Homo sapiens: one gene and its partners. The protein of the gene in region 3 purifies or fractionates together with the protein of the main gene of each other region. This does not show direct contact. Each region holds a gene or a part of one and is shown on either strand. Other genes may lie near its edges. The genes, in order: RIDA, GLOD4, GPI, FDX1, MT1X, ALDH6A1 and HPRT1.

Evidence for each region.
Region 1: the proteins of GPI (region 3) and RIDA fractionate together in Homo sapiens (co-fractionation; one large-scale study listed by BioGRID). This does not show direct contact.
Region 2: the proteins of GPI (region 3) and GLOD4 fractionate together in Homo sapiens (co-fractionation; one large-scale study listed by BioGRID). This does not show direct contact.
Region 4: the proteins of GPI (region 3) and FDX1 fractionate together in Homo sapiens (co-fractionation; one large-scale study listed by BioGRID). This does not show direct contact.
Region 5: the proteins of GPI (region 3) and MT1X fractionate together in Homo sapiens (co-fractionation; one large-scale study listed by BioGRID). This does not show direct contact.
Region 6: the proteins of GPI (region 3) and ALDH6A1 fractionate together in Homo sapiens (co-fractionation; one large-scale study listed by BioGRID). This does not show direct contact.
Region 7: the proteins of GPI (region 3) and HPRT1 purify together in Homo sapiens (affinity purification with mass spectrometry, with the first as the bait; one large-scale study listed by BioGRID). This does not show direct contact.

The regions. Positions count from the first base shown.
Region 1 is NC_000008.11:98,113,837-98,119,096, reverse strand, and holds the start of RIDA (2-iminobutanoate/2-iminopropanoate deaminase), read left to right. Parts: upstream 1-1,925; 5' UTR 1,926-2,000; coding exon 2,001-2,065; intron 2,066-5,260. UniProt on the Homo sapiens protein: Catalyzes the hydrolytic deamination of enamine/imine intermediates that form during the course of normal metabolism. May facilitate the release of ammonia from these potentially toxic reactive metabolites, reducing their impact on cellular components.
Region 2 is NC_000017.11:764,705-769,233, reverse strand, and holds part of GLOD4 (glyoxalase domain-containing protein 4), read left to right. Parts: intron 1-4,529.
Region 3 is NC_000019.10:34,367,640-34,372,168, forward strand, and holds part of GPI (glucose-6-phosphate isomerase), read left to right. Parts: intron 1-943; coding exon 944-1,063; intron 1,064-4,529. UniProt on the Homo sapiens protein: In the cytoplasm, catalyzes the conversion of glucose-6-phosphate to fructose-6-phosphate, the second step in glycolysis, and the reverse reaction during gluconeogenesis.
Region 4 is NC_000011.10:110,463,166-110,465,384, forward strand, and holds the end of FDX1 (adrenodoxin, mitochondrial precursor), read left to right. Parts: 3' UTR 1-1,719; downstream 1,720-2,219.
Region 5 is NC_000016.10:56,681,099-56,684,696, reverse strand, and holds MT1X (metallothionein-1X), read right to left. Parts: upstream 2,228-3,598; 5' UTR 2,157-2,227; coding exon 2,129-2,156; intron 1,533-2,128; coding exon 1,467-1,532; intron 740-1,466; coding exon 648-739; 3' UTR 501-647; downstream 1-500. UniProt on the Homo sapiens protein: Metallothioneins have a high content of cysteine residues that bind various heavy metals; these proteins are transcriptionally regulated by both heavy metals and glucocorticoids. May be involved in FAM168A anti-apoptotic signaling.
Region 6 is NC_000014.9:74,060,454-74,064,453, reverse strand, and holds part of ALDH6A1 (methylmalonate-semialdehyde/malonate-semialdehyde dehydrogenase [acylating], mitochondrial isoform 1 precursor), read left to right. Parts: intron 1-3,707; coding exon 3,708-3,812; 3' UTR 3,813-4,000. UniProt on the Homo sapiens protein: Malonate and methylmalonate semialdehyde dehydrogenase involved in the catabolism of valine, thymine, and compounds catabolized by way of beta-alanine, including uracil and cytidine.
Region 7 is NC_000023.11:134,469,582-134,474,110, forward strand, and holds part of HPRT1 (hypoxanthine-guanine phosphoribosyltransferase), read left to right. Parts: intron 1-3,777; coding exon 3,778-3,884; intron 3,885-4,529. UniProt on the Homo sapiens protein: Converts guanine to guanosine monophosphate, and hypoxanthine to inosine monophosphate. Transfers the 5-phosphoribosyl group from 5-phosphoribosylpyrophosphate onto the purine.

The DNA of each region.
Region 1 (5,260 bases), on a different chromosome or scaffold from region 3:
AAGTAGAATAAGAATTTTGTCATCTTAGGCAGCATTGAGAACTTGATGTGGCAGGCACTATTCTACATGACTTATTCATTTAATTCTCACAACTCTGTGGTCACTAGTATTATTCTCATCTTATAAATGAAGAAATCGAAGCACAGAGATTTTATATACCAGTCCAAGGCTACTAAGCTTGTGATTGTGCTGAGATTCAAACCAGGCAGTCTGACTCTATCCACTATTCTTTTTTTTTTTTCCACCCCTTCCCTCTCCAATCCACTATTCTTGAAACACATAACAATTAGAAAATAGGATCTCATATAATAAAATACTAAATTATGCGGTACAGCACAATAGGAAACAGGACAAGGGAAAGAAAAAAAATGAGGCCGGGCATAATGGTTACACCTGTAATCCCTGCACTTTGGGAGGCTGAGGTGGGAGAATTGCTTGAGCCCAAGAGTTGGAGACCAGCCTGGCCAATATGAAGAAGCCCCGTCTCCACAGAAAATACAAAAATTAGCCGGGCGTGCTGGTGTGCACTTGTAATCCCAACTACTTGAGATGCTCAGGCTGGAGGATTGCTTCAGCCCAGGAGGTCAAGGTTTCAGTGAGCCAAGATCATGCCACTGTACTCCAGCCAGGGTGACAGAGTGAGATCCTGTCTTGAAAGAAAGAAAACAAAGAAAAAGAAAAGGAAAGGAAGGAAAGAAGAAAAAGAAAAAAATGTGAATTGGTAGGAAAAGTCAAAGAGAAAATAGAATTTCAGTTAGCTGGAATTTGCACAGATAAGGAAGAAAGAGTATTCAGGAATCCACAGTGTGAATACAGGAGGACTCTAGTGGGAAAAGGGAGTAGATGACAATGAAACTTGAATAGGCAAGGGGAGGCCAGACTGAAAGGTCTTTTATTCCAGGCCCCAAACCAATGAAAAAGATCAGAAGGTTCCTGAGCCGGAAGTAGGAAGGCCAAAACCTTAGCAGTATGTAGGACAAAATGAGAGGGAATAAAGCAGATTTTCTTGTATTATCTTTAGGAAGCAGGGAAGGCAGAGATTTTATTATTATTTTTTTTAACTGTTGCATTCCTCCTAGCATCTAGCAGAGTGCCTTACACAAAGTAGGGACTCATATATCTATGAGTGCCCGCATAAATGAAGAAACGAAGCGTACTTACAATGCAAATATTAACAGGATAAGAAATATTTAGCCAAGTACCACCCCTTCTGACACAGCAGAATACTTACAAGGGATCTGGGCCATTCCAGATCACCATCTTTCTTTCTGAAATGATATCCCAATCACTAGGGCTCTGTTCAGACAGTGACCTTGTAAAGCCCGAGGAGCACCCTAGAGAAGGGAACACAGGAGGAGCAGGAAAGGGAACACGGGAGGACCAACGCCCAGATCTCAGCGTGGTCGCCAGAATGACCCATATTAGTCATTTGGGGTTGCAGAAGAGGGGATGCAAGCCCATTCCCAGGACGGCCTCCACCCGGCGGGGCAATGAAGGGAAATGACTGACGTAGGGGGCTCCAGCGCAGGGGCCGAAGGAGATGCGACACCAGGGAGAGGGGCCCCGGGCACAGGCAGCAAGGAAAGAGGTCAGCGGAGTCTGAGAGAGAAACGATGAAGAGGGGAGACGGGCGCCGGGAGGGGGGCCGCCGCATACAGTTCCCCCGACACTCGCATCCTGGAAGGCACCAGCCCCTCACGACCAACCTGCCAGACGCTGTGAGGAATCCCCGGGTCAGAATGACAAGCCTCCGCGACAGTACCCACCGAGCCAAAGCTCCTGGAGAGCGCGCTGGAGAGCGCATGCGCCAGACCGGGCGCTTCCTCCACGTGGCCTGGAGCGTCGCCGAAACTACAGTTCCCAGAATGCCGCACGAGCCCGCCCCCAGCGGGAGCTGTGGGGCAGAGGCGCTGCTGTGGTTGGTCAGTCCAGTAAGAAGCCAGCAGGGCTGGTGCTGGGGCTTCTTCTCCTGAAGGGGCTGCAAGAGGGAAGGCTTAGCCATGTCGTCCTTGATCAGAAGGGTGATCAGCACCGCGAAAGCCCCAGGGGCCATTGGACCCTACAGGTAACGTGGCTGGTGGAAGCTGTGTCGGACCCAGGGCGTGCGGGTTCGGGGATTCGGGGTTGGGGCCACTCCGGGCCGGAGCCCCAGCTAACACGCAAGGAAATTGAGCCTGGAAAGTAAGCAACGCGCCCGAAGACCCACAGAGAGTTGGGAGCCACGATGGGACCAGGAACCTGCACTCCATGGGACTTTGCTCGTTCTGGGGCTGCCTCGCTGCGGAGCACAGCCTGCCAGAAAGCTCTCCCCAGTTAGAAGCCTTCAGACCCTGTGTTTTGTTTTGGGGGAGGGGGTCGTTTTTGTTTTCTTGGTAACAGCTTTATTGAGATATAATTCACGTACCGTAAGATTCACCCCCTTTAACATGTACAATTCAGTGGTTTTGACCATACTCACAGAGTTGTGCAGCCATCACCACTTTCTTCAGAACATTTTCATCACCCCAAAAATAAATCCCATCCCCATTAGCATTCACTCCCCATTCTCCTCTCCCCCGGCCCCTGACAATCTACTTGCATCTTCATGGATTTGCTTGTTGTGGACATTTCCTATAAATTGAATCATAAAACATGCAGTCCTTTATGACCAACTTCTTTCATTAGCTTCATACTTGGTCTGCCTCTCTCCCAACTGAAAAGAGCCCCATCAACAGCTCCCTCCTTTAAACCTACTGCTGTGAGAAAAGGCACTGAGATGTGGCAGAACAGGAATTATTATAGAAAACTTGGAAATAAATAAAATGCAGTAGAAGTGAGAGGGCAAGTGGGGTAGGGAGTAAAGGAGAAAAAAGACAAATTGATTTTAACTTGGGGTGGAAGAGGAAAAAGAAGATTTAGGAAGGTTCCTTGTGAGAGGTAGTCCTTTGGTTTTGAAGGTTGGTTTTGTCATTTATAGTAGTGTTGTAAAGTTTGATTTTTAAATTAATTTATTAAGGATTTCAACAGGAAGTCATTGAGTGAAGGGCATGGAGGTAGAAGTCAGGTAGAGGGAATGGCTTGAGTGAGGGCATGGAGGTAGAAGAATGCATGGTATAAAGATTTTGGGGAGAAAGTTTTCATAATTCAAGTGCTACTTCTGTCTTTTTTGTTTGTTTGTTTGCCAAATCTGTATATCACTTATAATTTACTTAACCTATTTCTTTGAGATGGCTCACTTCATTTTATTTAACAAGTTAATTGAAAAAGGAAACTTTACAACAGTACACTAAATAGAAAACAATTCAATAGAAAGTAATAGTAAAAAATAAACTCAATTAAAAAAAGGTATTATTAAATTTTAGCTAGATATTGCAGTTGGCTCAAAACCTGAGGCCTGCTCTCTCTTTGTTAAGAGTGATGTTTCTTTAGCCGGGTACTGTGGTTCACGCCTGTAATCCCAGCACTGTGGGAGGCCGAGGTAAGAGGATTGCTTGAGGTCAGGAGTTCAAGACCAGCCTGGGCAACATAGTGAGACCCCCATCTCTATTTAAAAAAAAAAAAAAGTTTAATTAAAAACTTTCAAGTGATGTTTTAATTTGTTTTCTAAAGATGATTTTTTTTCTCCTTAATGTAATCAAACGGGGTAGAGTCATCATTGCTAACATTTACTGATGCTTACTCAGCAGCATTGGGCACTATCCCTTTTTTTTTTTTTTTTTTTTTTTTTTTGGAGGCAGAGTCTCACTCTGTTGCCCAGGCTAGAGTGCAGTGGTGCAATCTCAGCTCACTGCAACCTCCACCCCACAGATTCAAGTGATTCTCATGTCTCAGCCTCCCAAGTAGCTGGGATTACAGGCAGGTGCCACCACACCCGGCTAATTTTTGTATTTTTAGTAGAGACAGGGTTTCACTGTGTTGGTCAGGCTGGTATTGAACTCCTGACCTAAAGCGATCCACCTACCTCGGCTTCCCAAAGTACTCGGATTACAGGTGTCAGCCACCATGCCTGGCCAGCACCAGGCACTGTTCTAAGTTATTTATGTGCATGGTTATATTATAGTCCCTATTTTTCAGATGAAGAAACTGATGTGTGCAAAATTAAATAATTTGCCAAAAGTTACACCACTAAAAAGTGATGTAACAAAATTTGAATTTAGGAAATGGGTACTAGAGCCTAGTCTTAATCATTTACTTTGTTGTCCCTGGTGTAGATTGAAAAAAAAAATTGGAAAAGGAATCATTTTCTTACTATGTAAGACTGTGTATAAGTCTTACTGTGTATGACTGACTCCTTTGAGAAATACTGATTAAGAGTTGGACTTTGGATTTGAATTTTTGTTTTGCCTCTTTTTAATTATATGATCTTGCAGAGTGACTTAACCTCTCTTAGTTTGCTTCTTTGTCTTCTCAATGGGCATAAATAATACCATTTGATAAGATTATTGTGGGAATTAAATAAAAGTGACCAACAAAAATTAGATTTTGGCCAGGCACAGTGGTTCACACCTGTAATCCCAGCACTTTGGGAGGCCGAGGCAGGTGGATCACAAGCTCAGGAGTTCAAGACCAGCCTGGCCAAGATGGTGAAACCCCGTCTCTACTAAAAATACCAAAAAAAAAAAAAAATTAGCTGGGTATAGTGGCGTATGCCTGTAATCTCAGCTACTCGGGAGGCTGAGGCAGTGAATTGCTTGAACCTGGAAGGCAGAGGTCGCGGTGAGCCAAGATCGCACCACTGCACTCCAGCCTGGGCTACAGAGCGAGACTCTGTCTCAAAAAAAAAAAAAAAAGATTTTAGCAGGGTACAGGTTGTGGTGGTTTCCAATACTAAATGGAAGAATATAAACTTTATTTTGTATATAATAAGGAACAATTAAATGTGGTTTTTTTCTTGTGGTTGTTGTGGTTGTGTGTTTGTATGTGTGTATATTGAGACAGTGTTTCGCTGTGTCACCCAGGCTGGAGCCGGGATCACAGCTTATTGTCGCCTCAACCTCCCGGGCTCAAGCCATCCTCCCACCTCAGCTTCCCAAGTAGCTGGGGCTACAGGCTCAGGCCACCATGCCCAGATAATTTTTGTATTTTTTATAGAGCTGGGGTTTTACCATGTTGCCCAGGCTAAATGTTTTTAAGCAGGGTGGAACATGATCAGATCTTTTAAAAAGAATTCTGATAGTAATTCTGATAGAAATTTGGAGGTAAAGAAAGTGAGAATAGTTAGGGGATATTATAAGTAAAAATTTGTGATTTTTTTTCTCCTTCTGCCCTAATGTCTTTCTCT
Region 2 (4,529 bases), on a different chromosome or scaffold from region 3:
GGAGATGCCTCCATCTGACCCCCTCAGCTCTCCCCATGGAGATGCCTCCATCCGTTCCCCTCAGCTCTCCCCAGGGAGATGCCTCCATCTGATCCCCTCAGCTCTGCAGCTCCTTTGATCATCTCTTCTCCATTCTGCAGCATCAGTCTCTTCTTTCCAGTGAGTTATTCTCGCCAGCGTGCAAACAGGCGCTGAAAGCTCCCATCCTTTAAAAACCTTTTACTGACCCCATATCTCCTCTCCAGATTTCTCCTTCTAAAAATCTGAGTGCGCACTGTTTCTCTCTCTCACATCCTCTCCAGATTTCTTCTTCTAAAAATCTGAGTGCGCGCTGTTTCTCTCTCTCACATCCTCTCCAGATTTCTTCTAAAAATCTGAGTGCGCGCTGTTTCTCTCTCTCACGTCCTCTCCAGATTTCTTCTTCTAAAAATCTGAGTGCGCGCTGTTTCTCTCTCTCACATCCTCTCCAGATTTCTTCTAAAAATCTGAGTGCGCGCTGTTTCTCTCTCTCACGTCCTCTCCAGATTTCTTCCTCTAAAAATCTGAGTGCGCGCTGTTTCTCCCTCTCACGTCCTCTCCAGATTTCTTCTTCTAAAAATCTGAGTGCGCGCTGTTTCTCTCTCTCACGTCCTCTCCAGACTTCTTCTTCTAAAAATCTGAGTGCGCGCTGTTTCTCTCTCTCACGTCCTCTCCAGATTTCTTCTAAAAATCTGAGTGCGCGCTGTTTCTCTCTCTCACGTCCTCTCCAGATTTCTTCTAAAAATCTGAGTGCGCGCTGTTTCTCCCTCTTATGTCCTCTCCAGATTTCTTCTAAAAATCTGAGCGCGCGCTGTTTCTCTCTCTTACGTCCTCTCCAGATTTCTTCTTCTAAAAATCTGAGTGCGCGCTGTTTCTCTCTCTCACGTCCTCTTCAGATTTCTTCTTCTAAAAATCTGAGTGCGCCCTGTTTCTCTCTCTCACATCCTCTCCAGATTTCTTCTAAAAATCTGAGTGCGCGCTGTTTCTCTCTCACACATCCTCTCCAGATTTCTTCTTCTAAAAATCTGAGTGTGCGCCGTTTCTCTCTCTCACGTCCTCTCCAGATTTCTTCTAAAAATCTGAGTGCACGCTGTTTCTCTCTCACACATCCTCTCCAGATTTCTTCTTCTAAAAATCTGAGTGCGCGCTGTTTCTCTCTCTCACGTCCTCTCCAGATTTCTTCTTCTAAAAATCTGAGTGCGCGCTGTTTCTCTCTCTCACGTCCTCTCCAGATTTCTTCTAAAAATCTGAGTGCGCGCTGTTTCTCTCTCTTACGTCCTCTCCAGATTTTTTCTAAAAATCTGAGTGCGCGCTGTTTCTCTCTCTTACGTCCTCTCCAGATTTCTTCTTCTAAAAATCTGAGTGCGCGCTGTTTCTCTCTCACATACTCTCCAGATTTCTTCTAAAAATCTGAGTGCGCGCTGTTTCTCTCTCTCACATCCTCTCCAGATTTCTTCTAAAAATCTGAGTGCGCGCTGTTTCCCTCTCTTACGTCCTCTCCAGATTTCTTCTTCTAAAAATCTGAATGCGCGCTGTTTCTCTCTCTCACGTCCTCTCCAGATTTCTTCTTCTAAAAATCTGAGTGCGTGCTGTTTCTCTCTCTCACGTCCTCTCTAGATTTCTTCTTCTAAAAATCTGAGTGTGCGCTGTTTCTCTCTCTTACGTCCTCTCCAGATTTCTTCTCTAAAAATCTGAGTGCGCGCTGTTTCTCCCTCTTACGTCCTCTCCAGATTTCTTCTTCTAAAAATCTGAGTGTGCACTGTTTCTCTTTCTCGCCTCCCATTTTCACTTCAGTCTGTTTTGCACTGGCTCTTGTTACTCAGTGAAGTGCTTTTGTTTCTTGCCAAATATAGCAACTACTTTTAGATTCTCATCAAACTCAGTAATTCAGAAGCATTCAAAGTAGTTGTTGGATCCTAGCTCCTAGCACATACCTGGCATGTACTAGACGTTCTGCAAATACTTTGTTGAATGATTAAAGGAACAAATTGGTCTTTCTTGGTTCTGTCACGTAACTCTGTGACTGACCTTAAACAGTTGACTTAAATTCTTTGAACTTTAGTCTTCTTATCCAAAAATTTCAGAAAATAAGAGGATCTATCTCATAAGATTGTTATGGTTTATAGAGCTTGGCAAATTACTGACATAATAGTAGATGCACAATTAACGTTAAAGCAGGCAATGTATAGAAAATACAGTCTTTATACATTTTATCCTGAAGGAAAGTAGAATCTGTCATCCTCTCAGCTGACAAATTTGCCAGACTCTTCCTCCTCGCTCTTAATTTAATTAAATTAATTACTGAATTAAATTTTTTGAGATGGAGTCTAGCTCTGTCGCCCAGGGTGGAGTGCAATGGTGCAATCTTGCCTCACTGCAACCTTCGCCTCCCAGGGTCAAGCGATTCTTCTGCCTCGGCCTCCCAAGGAGCTGGAACTACAGGCACTTGCCACCATGCTGGCTAATTTTTGTATTTTTAGTAGAGACAGGGTTTTGCCAGGTTGGCCAGGCTGGTCTCAAACTCCTAGCCTCAAGTGATCTACCCACCTCATCCTCCTAAAGTGCTGGGATTACAGGTGTGAGCCACTGTGCCTGGCCCATTTTATTTTATTTATTTTTTGAGACGGATTCTTGCTCTGTCAACTAGGCTGGAGTGCAGTGGCATAATCTTGGCTCACTGCAACCTCCACCTCCCGGGATCAAGCGATTCTCCTGCCTCAGCCTCCCAAGTAGCTGGGATTACAGGCACGTGCCACCACGCCTGGCTAATTTTTGTATTTTTAGTAGAGACGGGGCTTCACCATGTTGGCCAGGATGGTCTTGAACTCCTAACTTCAGGCGATCCGTCTGCCTTGGCCTCCCAAAGTGCTGGGATTACAGGCGTGAGCCACCACGCCTGGGCCCATTTTTTTTTTTTTAAGACGGGGTCTCTCTCTGTCACCGAGGCTGGAGTGCAGTGGCATGATCTCAGCTCACTGCAACCTCCGCCTCCTATGTTCCAGTGATCCTCCCACCTCAGCCTCCCTAGTAGCTGGAACCATAGGCGTGCGCCACCATGCCTGGCTAATTTTTGTATTTTTTCTAGAGATGGGGTTTCACCATGTTGCCCAGGCTGGTTTCAAACTTCCTGGGCTCAATCATTCGATCCATCTTGGCCTCCCAAAGTGCTGGGATTATAGATGTGAACCATTGATGAACTCCTGCTCCCTGAGCTCTCTTCTCCTCTGCTGTTAGCGATCCTGCCATTTTTCTTTTTTTTGAGTTGGGAGTCTCACTCTCTTGCCCAGGCTGGAGTGCAGTGGCGCGATCTCAGGTCACTGCAACCTCTGCCTCCCAGGTTCAAGCAGTTCTCTTGCCTCAGCCTCCTGAGTAGCTGGTAGCTGGGATTACAGGCACGCACCACCACACCTGGCTAATTTTTGTATTTTTAGTAGAGATGGGGTTTCACCATGTTGGTCAGGCTGGTTGAGTAGGCCGGGTGCGGTGGCTCACACCTGTAACCCCAGCCCTTTGGGAGGCCGAGGCGGGCGGATCACAAGGTCAGGAGATCGAGACCATCCTGGCTAACACGGTGAAACCCTGTCTCTTGAACTCCTGACCTCAGGTGATCCACCCTCCTCGGCCTCCCAAAGGGCTGGGATTATAGGCGTGAGCCACTGCGCCTGGCCATCCTACCATTTTCATCTTCCTGACAGTTTCTCCTCAGACACGGGCACCTCTTTCTGTGTCTCATCCCAAAGTGTTTTTATACCCATAGCCCTACTTTGCTGTTTTTCCCATTCTGCATTCTTCCTCCACTCTGATGAGAGCTTACCTGCGACCTCTCCTTACCTCTGCCCTGAACGTAACCATCATCCTGGCTCCAGCCTCCTCACTTCCAGTTTTTAACTCCTTCCTCAGCTCAGACAGGTGGTTGTTGTTGATGAGGCATAATTTAGGTAGAATTTAAATGTGTTTTGACGGTTGTGTTTACTCATACAACCACTACTCAGAATACAGACCATTTTCCCAGGAAGTTCCCTCATGCCCATCTCCAGTGAGTTGGCACCTTCATCTCCCAGATCAGCTGCTATTCTGACTTCTGTCACTGTAGGTGAGTTCGTTCTTGGACTTCATACAAATGGAGTCATTCAGTATTTTCTTTCCTTTTGTGCCTGGCTGCTTTTACTCACCATGGCTTTTTTTGTTTTTTGTTTTTTGTTTTTTTTTGAGACGGAGTCTCGCTCTGTCACCCAGGCTGGAGTGCAGTGGTACAATCTCTGCTCACTGCAAGCTCCGCCTCCCGGGTTCACGCCATTCTCCTGCCTCAGCCTACCGAGTAGCTGGGACTACAGGCACCTGCCACCTCGCCCGGCTAATTTTTTGTATTTTTAGTAGAGACGGGTTTCACCGTGTTAGCCAGGATGGTCTCGATCTCCTGACCTTGTGATCCACCCACCTTGGCCTCCCAAAGGGCTGGGATTACAGGTGTGAGCCACCGCGCCCGGCCTACTCAACATGGTTTTGAGATT
Region 3 (4,529 bases):
TCGTTAGACCTTCCCTCAAGGACTCCTCTGCTGACTTCAGGCCATTTCACTCACGTGGCTGGGCCAGCCGCCTGGCACCCGTCACAGACTTCAAGTCTGGTTTGGTTCCTGGCAGTTGGTAGTTATCGGGCTGCTTGGTGAGGGAAGCTTGAGTTGCATGCCTTGCTGCAAATCCAAGGAGCTGAGGACACTGCCTAAAACGTGCCAGCAAACACCATGGACACACATTGGGAGGATGAGGTTACTTCAGGCTTCATGAGCACTCATCTTCGGAAAGCGTTTATTTATTTATTTATTTTGAGATGGAGTCTTGCTCTGTCGCCCAGGCTGGAGTGCAGTGGTGCGATCTTGGCTCACTGCAACCTCTGTCTAATGGGTTCAGGCGATTCTCTGCCTCAGATTCCTGAGTAGCTGGAACTACAGGTGTGTGCCACCCCCACCTGGCTGATTTTTGTATTTTTAGTAGAGACAGGATGTCACCATGTTGGCCAGGCTGGTCTCGAATTCATGACCTCAAGTTATCCACCTGCCATGGCCTCCCAGAGTTCCGGGATTACAGGCGTGAGCCATGGCGCCCGGCCTCTGAAAGCATTTATTGCTTGTTTCTGACATGTATTGTTGCCATTCTCTGCCTTTGCTCACTGTTCCTCTTTTCTCTCACTGTTCATGCCCTGAGCATCTCTGGCAGGCCTTCGGGGCCTGTCCTAGGCATATATGGGTCCCCTCCTCTCCTCCTGACTGTCTGCAGCACATAAGTCCTTGGGGAGCTCCTACTCCTCTAAGCATACAGTGGGTTCTTGGAACAAGGTTATGGTGCTAACAGAGACCTCAGGGCCTGCCTGTCTAGTGGATAGAGGGCCGAGCTATGGCACCATGCCCAGCTGGGAGCATGGCTGCCTGGGGTTGGGGGGGGCAGTCTTTATATCCTGACCGTAATCCCCAGGGTCGAGCCGTGCTGCACGTGGCTCTGCGGAACCGGTCAAACACACCCATCCTGGTAGACGGCAAGGATGTGATGCCAGAGGTCAACAAGGTTCTGGACAAGATGAAGTCTTTCTGCCAGGTAAGTGGCTACTGGGCCGGACTCACCCTTGGCCGTGTGTGTGAGTTATTTGGGAATCTGGGAGCCCTAAGGGGCAGCTCTTCCCTCTTCTTGTAGGCAGGACTCAGGTTCTCACTGCAGCTTAAGGGAGGGGTTGCCTGTGTGATCGCTGACCCTGGAGTCTCTGCTGAGGCCTGAATTTCTCCTGGCTCTGCTCTGAAGGAATCTGCTGCTGGCAGAAGTGGGGCCAGTTTCTTTCCTGAATTGTAGACACCTATGGACTCATGGTGACAAACCACAGAGGCTTCAAATGAAAAGTGGGGCCCCTGAGAGACAGGACAGTCAGGAAAGGAAGGAGCTTTTTCTTTTTTCTTTTTTTTTTTTTGAGATGGAGTCTCACTCTCTCGCCCAGAGTGGACTGCAGTCGTGCTATCTCAGCTCACTGCAACTTCCGCCTCCTGGATTCAAGCTATTCTCCTACCTCAGCCTCCCGAGTAGCTGGAATTACAATTATGCGCCACCCTGCTCAGCTAATTTTTGTATTTTTAGTAGAGACGGGATTTCACCATGTTGGCCAGGCTGGTCTCAAACCCCTGACCTCAGGTGATCTGCCTGCCTCACCTGGGATTACAGGCATGAGCCACTGCGCCTGGCCGGAAGGAGCTTTTTCTAATCTCTTTTGTCATACGCCCTTATCACCCAGTCTAGAAACAGATAAAACATTGTAAAATTTCCTCAACCCTGGCTGGGCGCGATGGCTCATGCCTGTGATTCCTGAACTTTGAGAGGCCGGGGTGGGTGGATCACTTGAGGTAAGGAGTTCGAGACCAGCCTGGCCATCATGGTGAAACCCCATCTCCACTAAAAATACAAAAATTAGCCAGTTTTGGTGACATACGCCTGCAATCCCAGCTACTTGGGAGACTGAGGCAGGAGAATCGCTTGAACCCGTGCGGCAGAGGTTGCAGTGAGCTGCGATTGCGCCACTGCACTCCAGCCTGGGCGACAGAGGGAGACTCTGTCAAAAAAAAAAAAAAATTTCCTCATCCCCATTCCCAGCTAACCCTCCAGAAGCAGCCTTTGTAAAGTTTCCTGTAGCCAGGCGCAGCAGCTCATACCTCTATTCCCAACTATTCAGGAGGCTGAGGTGGGAGGATGGCTTGAGCCTGGGAAGTTGAGGCTGCAGTGAGCCATGGTGACACCACTGCACTGCAGCCTGGGCGACAGCAAGATCGTGTCTCTAAATAAATTTAAAAAATAGAAAAGTTTTCCTGTGAAGTCTTCCAGAAAGTTCCTGTGCACATACACATCTGTCATCTCCTCTTTGAAACACGTACACATGTGCACATGCACACAGGTTGGTTTTCTCCCTGCTCCTCTGAAGCTTATTTCCACCTGGAAGTATGTAAGCAGTGTCCGTGTGTCAGTGACAGTGCATGTAACATGCCTTCTTTTCCTTGTGTGTAGGGTGGTAGGGGTTGCCTCAGAGACCAGCTAAGTTTCCCCACATCAAGCACTTGCCTCAGTGTCTACCCTAGCGGTGATTCTGCAGGGGTGGGTTGGCAGACATCCTCACGTCTGGAGAACGAGGGTGATGCCGGTGTGCCTGTGTGGGCTGTGCATGCTACGAGGGTGATCGTCCAAACTCTTGTCAGCTGTGATCATTTGCTGCTTGTCCTAGGAGCAGTGGCCTCCATGTGTGGCTGGTCAGAGTCCAGTTACTTTGGCCAAGAGCCACTTTCAGACCTGAAAATGGGCTGGGTGCAGTGGCTCACGCCTGTAATCCCAGCACTCTGGGAGGCTGAGGCAGGTGGATCATGTGAGGTCGGGAGTTTGAGATCAGCCTGATCAACATGGTGAAACGCCGTCTGTACTAAAAATACAAAAAAATTACCTGGGCGGGCATGGTGGCGAGCACCTGTAATATCAGCTACTGGGGAGGCTGAGGCAGGAGAATCTCTTGAACCCGGGAGGCAGAGGTTGCAGTGAGCCAAGATCACGCTACTGCACTCCAGCCTGGGTGACAGAGTGAGGCTCTGTCTCAAAAAAAAAAAACCAACAAAAAAACCAACCCATCTCTGGAAAAAATAAATAAATCAGCTAGGTGTGGTGGTGTATCCCAGCTACTTGGGAGGCTGGGGTGGGAGGATTGCTTGAGCCCGGGAGGTTGAGTCTGTACTGAGCTGAGATTGTGCCACTGTCCTCCAGCTCAGGTGACAGAGTGAGACGCCTCCAGGGCAAGGAAGTTGTGGGGTCCTGATGGGAATCTGGATTTCCTGAATGTCACTTAGGGTGATCAGTCCATGTGATGGTCTTTGGGTGTGTGGCGGGGCCTTTCCAGCCATCTGCTGTGAGTGGCAGAGCTGAAGTGCATTAAAAGCCTAGTGCTGTGTGATCAGTCTGGGTGTGCTCAGCCATGCCACATGGCGAGGATGGCACTGCACCGTCTGGGGTGCTGTTTCCAGGAAAGCCTTCCCTTAAAGCTGGCCACTGGAGTACCTGACTCAGGCTGATAAGGTATTTATAGTTCAAAAAAAGTTGCTGAATGGCAGTAATCCCCTGGTGAGGAACATTCCCCATGGCTGTGCTCTCCAAAGTTTGCCAAGATTGGGTGAAGACGTTCACTGTGACCTTGATTGTAGTGGCAAAACCTGAAACCAAGCTGTACTCATTTGTCAGGGGACTTACAAAGTAGAGTCAGCACATATTCATATACTGTCATCCTGGGCACCAATAGGGATTAGGGAGCTATAGTTGGATTGATCTGCCATGCTGTTCAGGATGGACTGGGAAGTTGAAAAAGGAAGTTGCAGAATTGGTGGGTATGGTAAAGACTCATTTGGTCAAATGAAGGCTGGGTGTAATTGTAATAAAGATAGACACATTTGGCTTGGTGCAGTGGCTCACACCTGTAATCCCAGCACCTTGGGAGGCCGAGGTGGGTGGATCACGAGGTCAGGAGTTCAAGACAAGCCTGGCCAACATAATGAAACCCCATCTCTACTAAAAAAAAATACAAAAAAGTTAGCCTGGCATGGTGGTGCATGCCTGTAGTCCCAGCTACTCGGGAGGCTGAGGCAGGAGAATCACTTGAACCCCAGAGGTGGAGGTTGCAGTGAGCCAAGATCACGCCACTGCACTCCAGCTTGGGCAACAGAGTGAGACTTTGTCTCAAAAAGAAAAAAAAAAAGACACATTTTTCCTCTGGGATGCTTCATTATAACAAACCTTTGACAGTCGGGAAAGGAGACTTGCTTTTTTTTTTTTGAGACAGAGTCTTACTCTGTTGCCCAGGCTGGAGTGCAATGGCGAGTTCTCGGCTCACTGCAACCTCCGCCTCCCAGGTTCAAGCAATTCTCCTGCCTCAGCCTCCTGAGTAGCTGGGATTACAGGCATCCGCCACCACACCCAGCTAATTTTTGTATTTTTAGTAGAGATGAGGTTTCACCATGTTGGTCAGGCTGGTCTCGAACTCCTGACCTCAGGT
Region 4 (2,219 bases), on a different chromosome or scaffold from region 3:
ATTCTTTTCTAAGCAGAATGGTTTAACTTTGTACTCTTTGAAAAATAATGCTGATTTATAAATCTCTGCCTATAACAGAATGGAAACCTTATGAATGAATTGTGTTTCTCTGTCCTGAGCTGGAGAAGGGAATGAGCAGGCTGACACGTTGCACAGCCCCAGGTGGCGCCATTCTCTCACGCAAGGATGGGGCTGCAGGGTGAGCAGCGTGGGCTGCAGTGTGTCAGTCCCAGGAGTGAGGGAGTGGCAAGCACCACAGATTACCACGTATGTGTGGAAGACATTCGTACTCTTATCTTTACTATAAATAAATTCATAAAAGTTAACAAAGGGGTACACAGTATGGTCTTTGGAAATATAATAAAACATCAACTAACTTGGACTAATTGTGAGGAAGAGCAGAACAAATTAGTAGAAAGAGGTTATAAGACAATTGAGTTAGCTTCATGTGTATTATTGCAGCTTGATCATTTATATAAATATTTGTCTAGTACAATGCTTGACATACAGCATTGTGTTATGCCCATTGGGGACACAGAGGTGAACAAGACAAGGAATGCCATCAGGGAATTCACCTTTTATTAGGAAAATATAAAATATGTATGTATGTGCAGATAATTTGCTTGAACTAAACTGACTAGTTCTGCTAAATAAGATTTTAAACTAATTCATATGTAAAAAGTGATTAGGAAGAACTTGAAGTATCATTTGATGCTTAATAACTATTGAGTAGTTTTTTTTTTTTTTTTTTGGTGGGGGGAGCGGGGGACAGGGTCTTACTCTGTCACTCAGGCCAGAGTACAATAGTATGATCTCGGCTCACTGCAACTTCTGCCTCCCAGTTTCAAGGGATTCTCGTGCCTCAGCCTCCCAGGTAGCTGGTACTACAGGCACGGACCACCACGCCTGGCTAATTTTTGTATTTTTTCTAGGGACAGGGTTTTACCACGTTGCCCAGGCTGGTCTTGAACTTTTGAGCTCGAGTGATCCACCCACCTCAGCCTCCCAAAATGCTGGGATTACAGATGTGAGCCACCGTGCTTGGCCATAACTATTGAATGCTTTCTATGTGGAGAGTGCTTGTCTTAATTTTCTGTTGCTATAATAGAATAACACAGACTGGGTAATTTATAAAGAAAAGAGATTTATTTGGATCATGGTTCTGGAGGCTGGGAGGTCCAAGAGCATGGTACCAGCATCTGCTTGGCATCTGGTGACAGCTTTCTTGCTGCATCATTACATGGTGGAAGGGCAAGAGAATGCGAGTGAGAGCAAGAGGGCAAAATGATTATCCTTTTATCAGGAGCCCACTTCTGACATAACTAACCCACACCTGAGATAACGGCATTAATCCATTCATGAGGTCTCTGCTCTTAAAGGAGATCACCTCTTAAAGGACCCACCTTTCAATGCCATTACACTGGCAATTTAATTTCAAGATGAGTTTTGGAGGGGACATTCAAACCATAGCAGTGCTATAATTTTAAAGTACTTCAAAGCCAATTTATTCTCTTAATTAGCTTCATTATTCTTGTCTTTGTGTGTGGATTACCTAAACTCTCCTTCCAGAGCTACTTTAATGATTATATTCAACCAAAGCACTCTAAAATTTAGAGTATAAATTGTCTTATATTTCAAATTAGAAAAGTTCAAATGAAGTTTAATTGTGTTATTTTATAAAACCTTCTAAAATTATTAAATGGAGGATATAATCTATAATTGGTTTGTATAAAGGTGATTTTTCAGTTTGAAAAAATCCTTCTGTATTTGATATATGTGTGTTGTAGGTAAATGTGTTGGTTTATCTATTGCTGCAAAACAAATTACCCCAAAACTTAGTAGCTTAAAACAAGAATCTTGTATTATTTCAGACAGTTCCTGTGAGTCAAGAATTTAGAGTACGGAGCAGGGATAGCTTGTCTCTGCTCCACAATGTATTAGGTCTTAAGCTAGATGACTCAAAGGCCAGGTTCTGGAATCATCTTCAGGCATATTCTTCATATGACTGGTGTCTGCTGTTGGCATCAGCTGGGGGGTCTAGGAGAAGATACTGGCTGGAACACCCACACGTGGCTTCTCTGTGTGGCCTGGACTTCCTCACAACCTGGCGCCTGGGTTCCAAGGGCAGGCATCCTCAGAAGAGCATGCATGCCAGGCAGAACTGGATCCTCTTTATGAGCTAGTTGTGGAAGTGACACAGTATCACTCCCAACTATTCT
Region 5 (3,598 bases), on a different chromosome or scaffold from region 3:
TCCCCACTTCCAGACCTTTGCTGGAGCTGTGCCCTCTGCAGGAATGCAGCTCTCAGATCCCAGTGGAAAGAGTTCTTCATTTGGGCTCACCCCAAGTGCATTCAGTCACAGTACTTTCTCCTTTATAAGATTCCTTATTCTATAATTCTCTCTCCCCCCAGCAGTCCATAAGCTCCCTGTTCCCCTCACCACTGAGGACCCCATGCCTGTGTATGCAGTAGGTGCACCATAGGTGGCTGGTGAGTATAGGCTGTGTCACAGCTACACAAAAAGGGCAGCTACTACCAGTTAACCGTTGCTAGAGGGTGGTAGAATAAACCCCCTAGTTTGCCATAGTTCACAAAGGAGAGCCAAGGCCAGGCAGGATTGCAGGAACCTTGCACCCAGACCCCCACTGCCATGGTCCCCTCTCTGAAATGCCCCACAATCTGGGTTTCCTACAATCCAACTGGAACCAAGTGCCATATACCCAGTGACAAATGAGGTGCCCAGAGCCAGAATAGTCTAGATGAATTTATTGCCATTCACATATTTCATAGAAAAAAAGATGTAGCAAACGGGTCAGGGTTGTACAAAAAAAAAAAAAAAAAAAATCCAGGTTTATATAGGTTGCTCTATTTACATCTGAGAGCACAGCTGTCCTGGCATCAGGCACAGCAGCTGCACTTGTCTGACGTCCCTTTGCAGATGCAGCCCTGGGCACACTTGGCACAGCCCACAGGGCAGCAGGAGCAGCAGCCTGGAGAAGAAGGGGAGAGTGAGAGGTCAGAGCAGACTCAATCAGGCACCTCCCTGCCCCAACAGAGGCCTGGCTCGAGCCCTGCCTCCAGCCCCAGAGGACCATCATTTCAGGATGGCATGGCTTTGTCAGAAGAGAACTGGTAGATCTTTGGGATGAGGGTTTTATATGAAAAAGCTGCCCAGCCCCACCTGAGTCTGGGACAGGACAGAAGACTGGACAGGTAGTGATTGGGGGTACAGGAACAAAAGGAGGCCAGTTCCCCAAAACCTACCCTTAAATGAGGAAAGTCTTCACAGCCGGACAGGGGGCAAATCCCTGACACAGCAGTTCTGGGGAAGGCTAGGGAAGCTCTGGGCTACCCCTGCAGGAAAGGACTGGATCATTAGGTTTGAAATCACCCGGGGTCTTCCAGATCCTGGGCCTTAAGTGCTTCAGGACCCAGAAGGGTGAAGAAGGCTGCATCAGGAGGCAGGAGACCTAGGTTCACATTCCAGCTTTGTTCCCAACACTATCTGGTAACCTCTCTGGGCCTCAGTTTCTAGTTTGGTAATAAGAGGCTGGGACTCACCCATTTTTAAGGCAATTTGAGGTCTGATTCTGAATCAGGTGTTGAAGGAGGGGTTTGGGGAAGCTGGTCATTGGCCTGCCCCTGCCTGCAGAGCTCTGGGTTCCCTGCTCTAACTTGGCCCATCCCCCAGATTCGCAGGGAAGGCCCTGCACTCACTCTTCTTGCAGGAGGTGCATTTGCACTCTTTGCATTTGCAGGAGCCGGCACAGGCACAGGAGCCAACTGCAAGGAAGAGAAAAAGGCAGTGAGCGTGGAGTGAGATGCAGAAGGTACAGCAGCTGGTCAATAACGCTTCAGTGACCCCTCCTCTGTGCTGAAGGACCAGCCCCCAGAGCTCCTTTCCCACTCAGGGGAGAGGAAGAGAAGCCCCATCTCCTCTCCCTTCATTTTGGGAAGGGCAAGTGTTCTGTTGCTTTTACCCCACAAGCAAGGTCCCAGGCTCCAGACACAGCCCAGGAAGGCTAAGACAGGAGGCCAGAACCTTCTGTCCTGAACTCCGAAGAGGCAATGGCCCCCCACTTCCCATCCACCCTGACTGCTCAGAGCCTGGTCAGAGCATTGGGGCTCAGCCAGCAGCCCCCTGACCAACTGGGTGACATGGAGCAGGACAGCCTTGGGCCTCAGTACCCTCAACTCTAACTTAGAGGCACAGGGAGGCGAGAAGTGGTCTCAGGGACGTGATCGGGAAGAAAGCACCTAACGAAATAAAGGAGCCCCTTCAGCTCAGAACTTTAAATGCGACTTCTTCAAACCCAGGAAGAGTCTGTACTGTGGCTGGGAAACGGGCATCCCAAGGCGCGGAGCTAGGTGTCCCTTACCAGGCGAGCAGGAGCAGTTGGGGTCCATTTCGAGGCAAGGAGAAGCAGGAGTTCCCGATCAAGAGGAAAACACGCAGCGGGACAGATGAAAAGCGTGGTGGAGCCCAGAAGCCGGCGGCTCTCTTTATAGTCCGGGAAGAGGGCCGGGCGCAGAGGCCCCGCCTCGTCCTTGCACCCGCCCCTGCTGAGTCTGCACCGCCCGCGATCCTGGGCCGGGTGCAGCAACCCGTGAGCCCAGCGCCGGGCGCACCGCGGGGCCTGCCCCTTTGGCTCCACCTCGTTGAGAACCTGGCAGTACGTGGCGTCCCTGGCGTCTTGCCTGCCCAATTTCCCTGACATTGCCTGCCTCTCCCTCTCCTAGGCGTGCCGGGAAACTCGGAATCCCGGCGGTCTACACACCCCCAGCCCCCGCTCCACTGTGTGTAGCTTTGCATTTCCCAGAGTCCCTGGATCACGTCCCTGGATCGGCGGGAGCGGTGAGCATAGCGAGGGAGCAGTGTGCAAATGAGAGGCAGAGGATGTGACACTCGGATTTCCTGCATTGCCGGTCCCTGTCCCCGTCCCCACCTCGGTCTGTTGGCCACGTTTCTCTTATGTCTAGGGACAGAACAGACACAGGGCTCTGCCCCCGTCCTTGCATTCTCCACTCTTGAGAGGCTGAATGGGCACATTTGCCCAGGTCCTCCTTTGCATAAAACTCTCCAGGTCTCCCCATAGCCTAGCCGGGCACCCCACCACAGGATGACAGTTTGGAAAATGTGGAATGCTCCCAGAAAAGGGATCATTTTAGGTGATATGCGGATTCCGGATTAAATTAAAATGCAAGAAACAGGGTTATTTTTCCTTCCATATTCCTATTACTCTACATAACATTAATCCGTGTTAGGCCCTTTTTAGTCACTTTGCATCGTTGAACCCTCACAGCAACCCTAAAGGGACATACTTCTATTCATGAACCCATATTCTAATCTGAACAACAACAATAAAAGGAGTTCAAGCCACCAGCCCAGGGTCAGAGGGCTGCGAAGTGACACTGCTGGGTCTGAATCCGGTCAGCGTCCCAAAGCAATGATGAAGCTTCCCTTTGGCCTAGATATATTCATCTCTTTACTGCTTGAAATCTTTAAACAAAACCAAGCATCAAGGTCAGTCCTGGAAGCAAAACAGAGATGCAGAGGGGATATGAATAAGCATAATTTGATGGCAACCTTCTATGTCTGGAAGTTAAACTGATTCTTTTTTCAGTGGTGCTAATGAGTTTGCTTTTCATATAAAAATATCTAAGGAAATAGGAATCATTTGAAAGAAAAACGTTAAGTCACATATTGGTGCAGGTGGTAGCAGAACTGGCAGGTATCCTTCCGTTTCTGTGATGGGGACAGGGACTATCTTGCTCATGGCTTTATATTTCTGGAGTGAATCCCTATTTTGTGGGCAGAGTGCAGGACACTGTCAGGACCACAGGTCAAT
Region 6 (4,000 bases), on a different chromosome or scaffold from region 3:
CCACCCCTCCCTCAGTGCTGGGTAGTGTGACCCCAGTGTGTTCCCATTGCACGTATTTTTTCTGTAATAGTTATTCATTTACAAAAAATGTTGTTGAGCACGTTCTTTGTAGCAGACATTATTATTACTATTATTATTATTATTTTTTTTTTTTTTGAGACACAGTCTCGCTCTGTTGCCCAGGCTGGAGTGCTGTGGCATGGTCTTAGCTCACTGCAACCTCCGCCTCCTGGGTTCAAGCACTTCTCCTGCCTCAGCCTCCCGAATAGCTGGGACTACAGGTGCCTGCCACCATGCCTGGATAATTTTTTGTTTTTTAGTAGAGACAGGGTTTCACCATGTTGGCCAGGCTGGTCTTGAACTCCTGACCTTGTGATCCACCCACCTCAGCCTCCCAAAGCACTGGGATTACAGGTGTGAGCCACTCTGCCCGGTCTGTAGCAGACATTATTTTAGGCACTATGAATACAGCACTGAACAAGAAAAGTAAAGCAGATCTGGAACCAAATTGCCTGTGTTCAAATCCCAGCTAAGCCAGTTATTAGCTGTCTGACTTTGGGGGATACCATTAATTTTTTTTTTTTTTTTGAGACAGAGTCTCACTCTGTCGCACAGGCTGGGGTGCGGTGGCACAATCTTGGCTCACTGCAACCTCCGCCTCCCAGGTTCAAGCAATTCTCCTGCCTCAGCCTCCCAAGTAGCTGGGATTACAGATGCCCACCACCACACTTGGCTAATTTTTGTATTTTTAGTGGAGATAGGGTTTCACCATTTTGGCCAGGCTGGTCTCGAATTCCTGACCTCAGGTGATCCGCCTGCCTCAGCCTCCTAAAGTGCTGGGATTACAGGCATGAGCCACCACAGCCAACCAGGATACCTTCTTTATGCCTTAAATTTATTCACGTATAAAATGAATAACAATAGTACCTATGTATTTCATAACATTGTAAGGACTGAATTATCACTATTGGCCAGGTGCAGTGGCTTACGCCTGTAATCCCAGCACTTTGGGAGGCTGAGGCAGGCAGATCACCTGAAGTCAGGAGTTTGAGACCAATCTGGCCAACATGGCAAAACCCCCTCTACTAAAAATAAAACAATTAGCCAGGTGTGGTGGCAGGTGCCTATAATCCCAGCTACTCGGGAGGCTGAGGCAGAAGAATCCTTTGAATCTGGGAGGCGGAAGTTGCAGTGAGCCGAGATTGCACCACTGGACTCCAGCCTGGGCAACAGAGCAAGACTCCATCTCAAAAAAAAAAAAAAGAAGAATTATTACTATTGCCACATCGGCCAACAGGTGCATATGTCCCGAGGCAGGAAGAAGCATGGCACATTCAGACAGCGGAAATGGGCTGGGGCACAGTGAGCAAATGAGAAGAAAAGGAAGAAATGAAGTTAGAGAGGCAGGCAGGGGTTGAGTCATGTAGGGCTCTTTAAGCCATTTAAAGAAGCCCTCATCAGACTGTAGTTGTTATCTACTTATCTGCAGTACCTGGAACAGAGCAGGCTGCCCAAACATTTGTTGAACAAATAGGCTAGGGGAAGTTCTTTCTAGTCATAGGACTAGAGCCATTTTGAAACCTTCATTAATAAATTACATGTTTTGTTATACAAGTCTCCCCTTTTATAGGTTGATTTTTTTTTTCTGTGCCAGCTATGTGCTGCCACAGGGCGAGGGATGTGGGGCTTTTTTATTTTATTTATGTTTGGGTTATTAAAAAATTAACAATGGGATTGCATAGCATTATGACAGTGTGGCCAAATGGTTAAGAAGTCAACACTTTGGTATTTGGAGGTTGATTATATAGTTTGTATATTAGTCACAGCTTTTGGTTTTTTGTTTTGGGGTTTTTTTGATGGAATCTTTCTCTGTCACCCAGGCTGGAGTATAGTGGCATGATCTTGGCTCACTGCAACCTCAGCCTCCAGGGTTCAAGCAATTCTCGTATCTATGCCTCCCGAGTAGCTGGGATTACAGGCACGTGCCACCACACCCGCCAATTTTTGTATTTGTAGTAGAGACGGGGTTTCGCCATGTTGGCCAGGCTGGTCTCGACCTCCTTACCTCAGGTGATCTGCCTGCCTCGGCCTCCCAAAGTGCTGGGATTACAGGAGTGAGTCACCGCACCCGGCCTAGTCACAGCTTTTGTAAAAATGACTAATTTGATACTAGTAACATTTCTTTTAAGCAAAACAGAGTACAACTATTGTTTAAAAATTGTTCCCTGCCCACCCTCTCCATTTATTTATTTTTTTGAGATGGGAGTTTTGCTCTGTTGCCCAGGCTGGAGTGCAATGGTGCATTCTCGGCTCACTTGCAACCTCCACCTCCCAGGTTCAAGCAATTCTGCCTCAGGCTCCACCACGCCCAGCTTTTTTTTTTTTTTTTTTTTTTTTTTTTTCCCAGTAGAGACGAGGTTTCGCCATGTTGGGCCAGGCTGGTCTTGAGCTCATGGCCTCAAGTGATCCGCCTACCTCAGCCTCCCAAAGTGCTGATATTACAAGTGTGAGCCACCGCTCCTGGCTGCACCCCCCAGTTTAATTATTATAAATTACTCTGGTAATCTGGTAAAATGTCATTCTAGCTTGCTAGTAATTATATAAGTGTTAGATCTGCACAATGTATTCTCTTTTGCTCAAGCCTACTCTTATAAACTATATCTATATATAGAGAGAGTTAAATATGCTGAATTTTTGGGCTCACATGTTATAGGTAATTGAGAAGTGAATTTGTATAATGTCAGACATTTTACTTTAGATTTCTAAGATACTTTGGGTTTGCCACTTCAATATAGAGCTCATGATCTCTGATAATTATCAGAAATGGCCGCTGGGTACAGTGGCTCATGCCTGTGATCCCAGAACTTTGGGAGACCAAGACTGGCGGATCACCTGAGGTCAGGGGTTCAAGACCAGCTTGGCCAACATGGTGCTAGCCAACATGGGCTAATCTGAAATTAGCCCTTCTCTACTAAAAATACAAAAATAGCTGGGCATGGTGGCACACACTTGTAATCCCAGCTATTCAGAAGGCTGAGGCAGGAGAATCACATGAACCTGGGAGGCAGAGGTTGCAGTGAGCCAAGATCACACCACTGCACTCCAGCCTGGGCAACAGAGCAAGACTCTGTCTCAAAATAAATAAATAAATAAATAAATGGCCTACTATATAATAGCTGGGGGCACGGTGGCTCACACTTGTAATTCCAGCACTTTGAGAGGCCGAGGAAGGCGGATCACTTGAGGCCGGGAGTTCGAGACCAGCCTGGCCAACATGGTGAAACCCCATCTCCACTAAAAATACAAAAATTAGCCAGGCGTGGTAGCAGGTGCCTGTAATCCCAGCTACTCGAGAGGCTGAGGCAGGAGAGCTGCTTGAACCCGGGAGGCAGAGGTTGCAGTGAGCTGAGATCATGCCACTGCACTCCAGCCTAAGTGACAGAGCAAGACTCCATCTCAAACAAAAAAGAAAGAAATACTAGTTTCAGCATAATAATGATGGCTAAGGTTTGATTGTTTACTATCTGCCAGGTATTATGTTAAATGTTTTAGATCAATTATCTTAGGAACAATATATATTGGATTCTGATTGCATTTCTCAATTAGGAAAGTGAGTAGCACTTTATAATACCTCCTTCAAAAGCTAATTAAAAGAAGAATCATGAAACCCCAGAAATATATGCTAACTTTTTTTCTGTTTTCCTTAGGGCATCCAATTCTACACTCAGTTAAAGACCATTACTTCTCAGTGGAAAGAAGAAGATGCTACTCTTTCCTCACCTGCTGTTGTCATGCCTACCATGGGCCGTTAGAAACAAGTTTGTTTAAGACTGACTCCATCCTGAGTAATCTCCCTTTATTTTTGACCAGCTTCATTTGTCAGCTTTGCTCAGATCAGATCGATGGGATTGGAATACATTGTAACTAAAATCTTCCTCAGGACTATTAACCCCCGCAAAGTTTCTATAGGGAACTGCCTAGTGTAACAATGAAACCAGAT
Region 7 (4,529 bases), on a different chromosome or scaffold from region 3:
CGATCTGCAGAACCTGTAGCCAGGCACTGAACCATTTTGATAGATGCAGTAATCGTTGCAAGTGTATATTTCAAGGAGTTCTGGCTGGGTCCTAGTTTATGCTTGTGGCAGAAGCAGTGAGTAACTGGGAGGAAGTTGGTGAGTAAGCTTCAAGGAAGAAGTCATTTTTAGTACTCTGGATCTTCCTGATTTTAAAGCACTACAAAATGGTGCATTTTCATTCTTGTCAAGTGATAACAGATATATTCTGATGAGCCTGAAATGAATATATATTGTATCATTTTTATAATATCTAGCAAGGTTTGTATTTTCCTAGAACTTGAACTAAATTTCAGTTCATAAAATTTATAAAATACTTAGTTGTTGTAAAATATTTTTGGAATGTTCACATAGGTGACACACAAATGTCCCATTTTCATTCTTTCTATAGTAAATATGTTCTGATATGTGAAGGTTTAGCAGATGCATCAGCATTTAATCCTAGAGGATCTGGCATAATCTTTTCCCCCAAGAATAGAAATTTTTTCTGCTTATGAAAGTAGTACATGTTTCTTTAAAAACAAATCAATATTGACTTCTGCCTGCTGTATAGCACTATGCCTCCACCTGGCCATGACCAGGGGCATGTCCTGGTCCACCTACCTGAAAATGTTTGCAACCAGCCTCCTGGCCATGTGCACAGGGGCTGAAGTTGTCCCACAGGTATTACGGGCCAACCTGACAATACATGAAGTTCCACCAAAGTCTGAGAACTCAGAACTGAGCTTTGGGGACTGAAAGACAGCACAAACCTCAAATTTCTCAGCACTGGAAACCTCAAAATATAACTGAATTCCATAAATAAGATTTTAAGTCTTAAATATGTATTTTTAAATGTATTAAAAGTCAAGCTGCTTGTATTTAAGCACCTAATACAATGCTTAGGTTGTAAAAGGAGATGCTCAATAGGTACTAACTGATATATTGAGATTTAATTATGGTTTGACCAATATTTATTGGAAACCGCCAAAGCTTAAATCATCAGCTTCTTGAATGTGATTTGAAAGGTAATTTAGTATTGAATAGCATGTGAGCTAGAGTATTTCATTCTTTCTGGTTTATTTCTTCAAATAGACTTTGAATATAATGGTGAATGGGTATTATAAATTAACTAATAAAAATGACATTGAAAATGAAAAAATATATATATTAAAGTGTAGAAAGTGACCAGGCGTGGTGGCTCACACCTGTAATCCAAGCACCTTGGGAGGCTGAGGCAGGAGGATCTCTTGATCCCAGGAGTTCAAGACCAGCCTGGGCAACATAGCGAGACTTCGTCTCTAAAAAAAAAAAAGAGAGAGAAAAAAATTTTTTTTATTTAAAAAAAGTGTAGAAAGTGTCAAGACCCCACTTCTTACCATTATTTGGTATATTTCTCTATACCCACCCACCCTTCCTCCTTACTCCCTCCCTCCCTTCCCAATCTTTTTATCTTTTTGTATTCTGATTTTTTGTTTGTATATTTTGCTTTAATTTAATGTATCCTTTAAAAATTTCCCATACATTTTATATGTATATATAAAAACGCATGCTGCCAAAGATAATTTATAAGAAAGACCATTGAATTTTTTTAAAAGTGATATATATTCATTGAAAAAAATTTAGAATATATAGCAAAGCAATAAAGAACTAAATAAAATTGCTGTAACTCCTCTTTCAAAGATAAGTGCTTTTATGATTTTGTTGTATTTTTTTCTGTATATAGGTACATATATAGTATTTATAAAGCTGTACTCATAGTACATTTTCACATCACAGGTACCATATCAGTGTTATTAAATATTTTGTATGCCAGGGGCTAGACATACCAAGACAACCAATATGTGGTTCTACTTAAATAATATTAGAGTATCTTTTATGATGACACTTCATGAGTTGACTATAATAATCTTAGACTTCTAAGAGTTTGGGTTTTCAAAAGATCACTTAGCTTTTTTGGGTGATTTTTCCCCCTTACTGTGAGATGAGAGAGGCTGTTTGGATTTGGGATTGGGGTAGCGGGGACAGCAACTTTTCTTTTCTTTTTCTTTTTTATTTTGAGGTAGGGTATTGCTGTGTCACCCAGGCTGGAGTGCAGTGGTGTGATCTCGGCTCACTGCAACCTCCACCTCCCGGGCTCAGGTGATCCTCCTGCTTCAGCCTCCCCAGTAACTGGGACTACAGGCGCGTGCCACATGCCTGGCTAATTTTGTATTTTTAGTAGAGATGGGGTTTCACCATGTTGGCCAGGCTGGTCTCTAACTCCTGACCTCAGGTGATACGCCCACCTGGGCCTCCCAAAATACTGGGATTACAGGCATGAGCCGCTGCATCAGCCAGCAGTTTTTCTTGTGGTTTTTTTTGTTTGTTTTGTTTTGTTTTGTTTTTGAGATAGGGTCTTACTCTGTTGTCCACGCTGGAGTGCTGTGGTATGATCGTAGCTCACTGCAGCCTCAAACTCCTGGGCTCAAGTGATTCCTTCTGCCTCCGCCTCCCGAGTAGCTGGGACTACAGGTATGCACCACCATACCTGGCAAATTTTTACAAAGTTTTTTGTAGGGACGGGGTCTTGCTACATTCCCCATGTCGGTCTTGAACTCCTGGCCTCAAGCAACTCTCCTGTCTCAGCCTCCCAAAGCACTGGGATTACAAGTGTGAGCCACCACACCATGCCAGTTTTTCCTGTTCAGTGTGATATTTTATCTTGTTAGACTACAGTGTGTTAAAACTTGTTTTACTAAATTTTCAAACATACTCAAAAGTGGAGAGAATAGTATAATGAATACCCGTATGTTCATCACCCATGTTTAGAATATTATTAAATATAAAGATTTTGCTGCGTTTGTCTTAGCTCTTTAAAATTTTTCTTTTTCTCTTTGTGACCTAAAGGAAATTCCATATCTTATCACTTTACTTCTACATTCTTGACTAAGATGACTAAGACATATAGTTACATGGTTTTTTGTTTTGTTTTTTGTTTTTTAAAGACGAAATCTCGCTCTTGTCCCCCAGGCTGGAGTGCAATGGTGCCATCTCAGCTCAGTGCAACCTCTGCCTTCTGGGTACAAGCGATTCTCCTGCCTCAGCCTCCCAAGTAGCTGGGATTACAGGCTCCTGCCACCACGCCTGGCTAATTTTTGTATTTTTAGTAGAGACGGCGGGGGGAGGTTTCACCATGTTGACAAGGCTGGTCTGGAACTCCTGACCTCAGGTGATCCACCCGCCTCGGCCTCCCAAAGTGCTGGGATTACAGGCGTGAGCCACCGCGCCCAGCCTGTTTTTTTGTTTGTTTGTTTTGTTTTTTTTGAGACAGAGTCTTGCTCTGTTTCCCAGGCTGGAGTGAAGTGGCGCATTCTTGGCTCACTGCAACCTTCACCTCCCAGGTTCAAGTGATTCTCCTGCCTCAGCCTCCCAAGTAGCTGGGACTACAGGCATGTGTCACCACACCCGGCTAATTTTTTTGTATTTTTAGTAGAGACGGGATTTCACCGTGTTGCCCAGGCTGGTCTCGAACTCCTGAGCTCAGGCAGTCTGCCTGCCTCAGCCTCCCAAAGTGCTGGGATTACACGTGTGAACCAACCCGCCCGGCCTGTTGTTTTCTTACATAATTCATTATCATACCTACAAAGTTAACAGTTACTAATATCATCTTACACCTAAATTTCTCTGATAGACTAAGGTTATTTTTTAACATCTTAATCCAATCAAATGTTTGTATCCTGTAATGCTCTCATTGAAACAGCTATATTTCTTTTTCAGATTAGTGATGATGAACCAGGTTATGACCTTGATTTATTTTGCATACCTAATCATTATGCTGAGGATTTGGAAAGGGTGTTTATTCCTCATGGACTAATTATGGACAGGTAAGTAAGATCTTAAAATGAGGTTTTTTACTTTTTCTTGTGTTAATTTCAAACATCAGCAGCTGTTCTGAGTACTTGCTATTTGAACATAAACTAGGCCAACTTATTAAATAACTGATGCTTTCTAAAATCTTCTTTATTAAAAATAAAAGAGGAGGGCCTTACTAATTACTTAGTATCAGTTGTGGTATAGTGGGACTCTGTAGGGACCAGAACAAAGTAAACATTGAAGGGAGATGGAAGAAGGAACTCTAGCCAGAGTCTTGCATTTCTCAGTCCTAAACAGGGTAATGGACTGGGGCTGAATCACATGAAGGCAAGGTCAGATTTTTATTATTATGCACATCTAGCTTGAAAATTTTCTGTTAAGTCAATTACAGTGAAAAACCTTACCTGGTATTGAATGCTTGCATTGTATGTCTGGCTATTCTGTGTTTTTATTTTAAAATTATAATATCAAAATATTTGTGTTATAAAATATTCTAACTATGGAGGCCATAAACAAGAAGACTAAAGTTCTCTCCTTTCAGCCTTCTGTACACATTTCTTCTCAAGCACTGGCTATGCATGTATACTATATGCAAAAGTACATATATACATTTATATTTTAACGTATGAGTATAGTTTTAAATGTTATTGGACACT